Homo sapiens: one gene and its partner. The protein of the gene in region 2 interacts with the protein of the main gene of each other region in a pairwise test. Each region holds a gene or a part of one and is shown on either strand. Other genes may lie near its edges.

What was found.
Region 1: the proteins of BACH2 (region 2) and SMYD1 interact in binary tests that used the Homo sapiens proteins (3 or more experiments, as listed by UniProt).

What each region holds. Positions count from the first base shown.
Region 1 is NC_000002.12:88,084,825-88,088,424, reverse strand, and holds part of SMYD1 (histone-lysine N-methyltransferase SMYD1), read right to left. Parts: intron 564-3,600; coding exon 350-563; intron 1-349. UniProt on the Homo sapiens protein: Methylates histone H3 at 'Lys-4' (H3K4me), seems able to perform both mono-, di-, and trimethylation. Acts as a transcriptional repressor. Essential for cardiomyocyte differentiation and cardiac morphogenesis.
Region 2 is NC_000006.12:89,926,034-89,929,986, forward strand, and holds the end of BACH2 (transcription regulator protein BACH2), read right to left. Parts: 3' UTR 495-3,953; downstream 1-494. UniProt on the Homo sapiens protein: Transcriptional regulator that acts as a repressor or activator. Binds to Maf recognition elements (MARE). Plays an important role in coordinating transcription activation and repression by MAFK.

The DNA of each region.
Region 1 (3,600 bases), on a different chromosome or scaffold from region 2:
TCTTAGTTGGACGATCCCAGCTGTCACCATGGCCCCTCCTTGATAAGGAATCATACTCTAGAATCTCCGGATTTTATTAGTTGGGTCATTTGGAGGCCTGTCCCTGGGCTCAGAAATGGAAGGGGCAGTAGATGTTTCTGCTACATGCGGTAAATAGAAGGCGGTTTCTCCAGCGCCTCTGGCTGCCTGGGCTAGATGAGACCTTTATGGAAATAGAAATCAGGGTCCAGGGCAGACAGGGCTTCTGCCTCTTAGTTCACTTCTGAGAAGCCCCACCCTCCCCAAGTGGGAGGAGGGAAGGAAAGAGGAGACAGACAGGGAGGATGGAGAAGGGACGCAGGGGGCCTACCACTCCGAAGATGTGCGAGATGTACTGCATGCTGAACTGCTGGCTCTGCGGCGGCCAGTACTGCAAGAATGTGTCCACGTCCACCCGCAGGTCCTTCTGCTCCTCCTCCCCAAAGTGCTCCACGTGGTTCTGCAAGTCGTCCACGGACACCAGGCAGCCCTCCGTGAGCCCGGTGCCTTCTCTCTCCACCCGCCACATGATGCGCGCCGCCAGCCTGTGGGAAGGGCAGCGTCAGGAGGCCACTACAGCTGCATTCATTCCTTCAACACACATTTACTGGGTGTCTCATGCATGCCAGGCACAATGTTGGGCCCAAGATACGTTTTTAAACTAGATGGATGGAATTTATTCTATCATGATGCTTCATATAGTGGGGGAGAGGTAAGTAAACAAGCACATTTTACATAGAAAGTGCTATGCAGAAAAAATAATACAGGGTGGCATGATAGAGAGTGACTGGGGTGGGGAAGCTAAGGTCTTCCAGGGAAGTGTCACAGAGGAGGCACATTTGAGCTGGAATTGGAAGGGGTGGAGGAGCTGGCTCTGTGATACTGGAGAAAGAGCACTTCAGGAGAGGGCAGTGAGTACAAAGGCCCTGAAGAAGGAATGAGCTTGGCATGATGGAGAAGTAGCAGGAAGGCAGAGGTGGCTGGAGCACAGGGAGCAAGAAATGGAGACCAAATAAAGGTGGAGGTGTGGGCAGGAGCCAGGTTCCGTGGGGTCTGGGGAAACAGAGAGGTGCGGCAGCCTGGGTCTCTCAACAGTGTGGCCTACTGGGATGAGCCCTGCATCAGGAGTCTAATGACCTGTTTCCACTTCTTACTGTGTGAGCCTGGGCAAGTCACTTGACCTCTCTGAATCTATCTGGTGGCTTGTAAAATAGGGAAAATAGTCCCTGCTATGCTAACCTCCAGAGGTATTCAGAAGACAAAGTGAAGTAATAGGTGTCTGCATTGTGTGTGAAAGTATTGGTATTCTTTTTTTTTTTTTTTTTTTGGAAGCTATACAGTGTACTCTTTATTTATTTTTATTTTTTTGCAAAGTAAAACTCCACAAGCAAGCATTTTGGGGACTGTGGTGGGGTGGGGGGAGGGGGGAGGGATAGCATTGGGAGATGTACCTAATGCTAGATGACGAGTTAGTGGGTGCAGCGCACCAGCATGGCACATGTATACATATGTAACTAACCTGCACAATGTGCACATGTACCCTAAAACTTAAAGTATAATAAAAAAAAAAAAAGATAGGGATGGGTAGAGATAAGGATAGGGGTAATCTCCTAAAATAAATTTCATTTCTGAAATCGGTACTAATAGAAAGTTGATTGAAAACATAACATGATTTGTTTTATTCCACTTTATTTTTGGCAATCATAAGTATTGGTATTCTTAATGATTGGGGAGTGAGAAAGTGGAGAAGGCAATCTAGGCCGGGAAACAGTGTGAGCGGAGGCCTCGAGGCAGCCACGGGCATGCCACGTGCAGGAAGCAGGGAGGGGCCTGGCCTGGCCGGAGCGGGGCTCTGGGGGAAGAGGAGGAGGCCAGGTGGGACAGGAGGAGACCTATAGAGACACAGGGACTTGAGTATGAGACAAAGGGGTATACTTCACCCCGAAGCCCTCTTTGTTAACTATTAGGTGGCCTGTGATGAAGCTTATGACCCAGGGACACTTTAATGTTCCTGCCACCCACTGACTGCACACTTTTCAGGCATCTGGGAGGGGATGGTGGTCCAGGACAGATCCTGTCCCTGAGGAGAGATCTGCTGGGCAAAGCACAGGCCCTCTCCTCATTTTTTTTAATTGAAATTTTAATTGAGATAATTGCAGATTCACAGGCAGTTGGAAAACAATACAAAGAGATCCCTTGTACATTTTGCCCAGTTTTCTCCAATGGTAACATTTTAGAGAACTAATATCACAGCCAGAATATTAACCCACCTGTATCATTCAGATTTCTTCCGTTTTACTTACACTCATGAATGTGTATGTGTGTTTAATTATATACAATGCTATCACCTATGTAGCTTCATGTATCCACCTACACAGTCAAGACACTAAACAGTGCCATCACCTCAGGGTCCCTTCTGTCCCCCCACCTCTTTTTGAACCATTTTAACCATTTTTAAGCATACAGTTTGGTGGCATTAAGCACACTCACACTGCTGTGCAACCATCACCAACCATCTGTTTCCAGAACGTTTTTCATCTTCCCGATTTCTCCTGTTTGAGTCACTGAGTTATTTCTGGAGAAATGCCCCGCATGGGACTCCAGGTGCCTGGAAACTGAGGTGTCTTCACAGGGAGCCCAGGGCAGCACTGGGGAAAATACGACTCAGCACAGGGAAGATCTGCTGCCTCCAAATACCGAGGAAAGGGTCATGAAGCTCAGAGAATAGAGGTCAATGGGTGGTAGATTTCAACTCAGTCACTATCATAGGAGGTGCCATTTACTTCAGGTCTTGAAGGATATGTAGTGTTTCAATAGATGGAGCTAAGGGGCATGGAGAGGTTGACTGAGCCATTTCATCCTGCAGGTTCCTAAAAATCATCAGGATATGACAATTCCATTCTGTGCCTTAACTTCACACACTATGCACACAGTGAAAATGCTCCCAGTCACCATCTCCATCTCCTTTGCTCTGCAGTGCTGGCTTCCTGAGCATCTCCCTGCAGCCCAGCACTGAGCCCCACCCCAGCGGAACCTCCAGGATTGGGAATCTCTTGGGCTGGAGCTATAGGCCTTGAGATTCTGATGATGGCCACCAGGAAAGGCCATTAGTTGCAAACTCAAATGCACTCTCTGGTGTAATGTGTATGACCACAGGGAGCAGTGGTGCTGCTGTGACTTAGAACGCTCTGTATTTTTTCAAAGGTGGCAGATACTACTCAGCTCTAGCCTATTTTGCCAGATTTTCAGTTTTTTGTTTATTTTTTTTTTCAAGAGAAGTCAGAAATCCTAATTTTAAAATGTGAAATTTCCCAATTTTTAAACATTGGTGGATCAATTTAAAAATACTTGCCCCTTGTCCGGGCATGGTGGCTCACAGTTGTAATCCCAGCACTTTGGGAGGCCGAGACGGGTGGATCGCTTGAGCTCAGGAGTTCGAGGCTACCCTGGGCAACATGATAAAACCCCATCTCTAAAAAAATACAAAAATTAGCCAGATGTGGAGGTGTGTGCCTGTGGTCTCAGCTAGTTGAGAGGCTGAAGTGGGAGGATCACTTGAGCCTGGGAGGTCAAGGCTGCAGT
Region 2 (3,953 bases):
CATTTCTCACAACGTACCCCCTTCACTAACCAATGCATGACTGTATGGATTCCTCAACCACAATTCTAAACATCTTTCCTTGCAACTCACTGCATCTTGGTGTTGGCTTAATGTTCTTTCTCATTTACTTTCATTTAGTTTTTAAAAAATTCAGCCTATTTTGGATATAATTGCAGATTCACATGCAGTTGCAAGAAATGATACCCATCACCCAGTTTTCTCCCGTGGTAACATTCTGCATAGCGATAGCACAATATCAAAACCGAGAAATTGGGTTTAAAGCCTTTTATCTACTCTCACAGGCACTAGGGATTTTTAAAATTCAGAGTTTAGGAATCACATTAATATTATCCAATTTTAAAGATTCCTAATCAGATTAATCAGGTAGCAAGTAAGGGTCCAAACTAGAGGAAGAGAAATGGCCTCTAGGAAAAAAGATTTCCTGAGGTTTCTCACTCTGTAATTTGGAACATAGGGATCAGAGGCAGAGAAAATCAGTTTACAATGCATAATGATATGTCTTTATTTCATCAACAGAAATGGTGTCTAGACAAAATTCAGTTAACACTAGCAATTCAATTGAGTGAAAACTTTTTTTGCACAATAGTGTATTTACAATGAGTAAATGAAGTTTCAATTCATTAGTTCATAGCAATGCTTTTTTCCCCCAAAAGGTAAAAATTCTTAGTTACAGAGAATAAGCATCAACAGCCTTTCATTTTTTACAATAAAAACCACGAGAAAAACCACAATCACTTAGAAAAAAATAAGGACAAGCCTAAGAACTAGTACAATAAAATGATGCATTGAATTAAATTACATTAATCGCATAGAATCTGTGTAAAAAGTATGTAGAAAAACACCTGATGTAACCTGTTACAGTCGTTGACCAGTTATGAGAGGTACAGAGGGTTATACAGGTAGATATGTGTGAAAACTGTCCGTATTGTTCAACCTGGGGAGGAAGAGAAGAGGGGCTGCAGCCCCTTGCATACACTGAGAAGACCCTGTTTTGAATATGGCCTCTGGAGTTTGTAAGGCATATATTAGAGGTGCACTTGCATCAGACTGGTTCTGGAACAAATTGTCAAATTGTCACAGGCTCTCTTGGCCTCACTAGCAAAGGTGGTGCTTGCCTTGAATGGCTCACTGTGTCTAACAAGCACCTGAAGCTCCCAAATGCATATGGAATCTTCCTGATCACTCACTAGAGGTGCCATGTCTTTATGTCAGAGCGTGAAACGGGCATCCCAGGATTTGCACACACAAAATACATTGTTAGGACTTAAGGGGAGGTCATAGTTCTGCCTCCAAACATGTTTTGGTAGAAGACTGAGCATCCATCTGTAGGAAAACCCCTCTTTGTCCAAGTCCCTTCACTCTTTCGCAACATATGCGTCTGATTATTCCCATGGGAGCACTTGGCACTGAATGTGAGTCTACCTGAAATGAATGGTCTTGGTGCACACTTCTGCTTCTAAGAAGGGCCAGTGTTTTATCTGAGGTCAATAAACTGGAATGAGAATGAAAGTCAGAGCTGTTTATCCATTGCTTGACAGCAAAATGCATACACCGTGTCACAACATTAAATCAAAGCTATGAAAGTTGGCCTCTGCAACCAAGTGGGTATTCTTCACAAAATGGCAGCATCGTTTTCATATTACATTTAAAATGCACTGATATTCATTTGATAGAAATATCATCTCCCAGGGTGGAGTGTAGGAAAATACTATAAACTTTTCTTTGCAAGTAATGTTTTTGCACCGTCAGTTGAATAATTTATGCTCAATCTGCCACAATGAGACTTTTCTATGTACAAATGCTATTTGCACACACTATTTGTGTACAGATATGTTCTGTTCTACAGCATCGGTTTTGGACGCTGGGGTCATGAGATGGCTCAGGCAGTACTATAAACATACACTTTCAACACACAATGCCTCGTGCACACAGATTTCCTGTATGAATACCAACTCCACACAGGGCATTGTATTGTGGACTGACTCACCAGAAATTGCACTTCCAACACAGTCTTCAGTTTGGGGAAGAAACACTAACTCATGATACAACGAACAGCTTTATTCTTAGAAAACAAAAACAAAAACAAAAAACACCTTGTTCTTTAGTCTATTTACAGTCATTTGAGGACCAAACTTGATTCTTGCTCCTTCTGGATCTGAGACTCCTCCTAAACTGTAAGCAATAGTGAAGCAGTTTGAAGTCATTTCTAAGACAGCTCCTAGTTTAAATGGGGCATAATGTAGAGAAGTAGGTAGCCAAATAGGGACTTGAGAAAGCTTTGCAGGCAGCTCTTCCTCATTTTGAGAGGATTATGCTACTCCACAGGATGTCAAGCAGCTTCACGGGACAGGAGTTTTTGGTGTCTTAACAGGCTTATCATTTTCAAACCTTTGTCTGTTCCTTCTTTTTCTTCTTCTTTGATGGCAATCATAAAATATTAAAAGAGAAAATGTGGGTTTAGGCCTCTTGACAACAGCATTAAACTTCACACTGTGCACACTTCACTTTAGCCAGTCCTCTCATGAGTCTTGTCGCTGGTCCTGGCTCCTTTTGAAGGAGTAGTGGCAGTTGGCATACTAATCACTAGACTTTTGTTCCCTTCCTTGGAAAAGCAATGTAAGGATTACATCCCGAATTATAGTGCATCTTAAAAGCAGCAAACCTTTAGAAAGACAGTTAATAAATTACTCGCACAACATTCAGTTGCAGACACACAGAGTCAGGTTTTCCACTGCAGCATCATCTCTGATGCCTGAGTCATTGCTGGGAACTCAGAAGATAAATAGCAGGATGGCCTCGTAACTTTGTCGGTTTTTTTTTTTTTAAAGTTTTTCTAACTGTTTTGTTCCAGAATCAGTATGTAATAAAGTTCGATTTTAATCAAGGCACCCCCAGGTAACGCAGAGAAACAAACACATACAGCAAATCACTCACCTGTCCAAAGCCTGACCAACTTGAAAAGAGGTTGCCTGGATACACAAGCAGGACAAAGGCAGATCCAAGGGGAGGACTGGATTTAGGTGGGATGTTCATTAGTCTCAGGGTCACTCACCTCCACTGGCTCTGCCCCAACAACCATTCCTACCCCAGCCATTTGGAGACCCAAGCAGGCATCCTCCTAAACAGCCCGTGGTTGGAGGGTCTCTTATTTTTGTAAGAAAAGAGCCTTAAGAACAACCAAATGTTACTGTACTGTGCAAACACTCTTCCTTGCTGTTCACTCACTTTTCTTTTTCCTAAAAGGCGTGGGGTTGACAGAGGGATCCCAGGGAAAAGAGACAGGCTAGGTTTTAAAATTCCACTTGAGGCCGTTTGGATTCTGGTCCCCAGCAAGTCCTCCCTTTGAATCAACCCAGAAATAATTTTGACAAGCACATAGTTCTGAATAGGAAAAGACACACACACATCACATGAACAACTGCACGAAGCTAGTCACTGTTCATGGTGGATTATGAATGAAATAACTTGTGAGAAATCTCTATGAAATTGGAAGATGGTTTTTAGAGCAGTGTTTTTAACCAGTTCCCATGGCAGAAGTTAGGTTGGGGGAAGAGGAAGAAAAGCAAGGCAGGGGTGGGTGGGAGGAAGGTGAGGTCTGAGTTAGGGTGGAGAGAAATAAAGAGGCCCCGCCCCTGCTAGAAATGGCTGCCAAACAGGTCTGGGCTACTGAACCACAGAAACCTGAGGAAATGGATGGAATGTGGTCAAGACTACCAGTTGCACATGAGTTGTTACCAGGGTAAACCTCATGCCAAGAAGCTGGGTTGGACCTGGTTATGATATGAGCAGAAAGTGTTCTTTTTTTAAAAGAAGAGGAGAGGTCACTTGGAAAGGCAACAATAGAGTTAAAAAGCAAAATACTGTCAGCTGACTCCACTGTAACACACGCCTGCGAAGTATCACGTGATTCACATTGAGTTTATATTCTCACT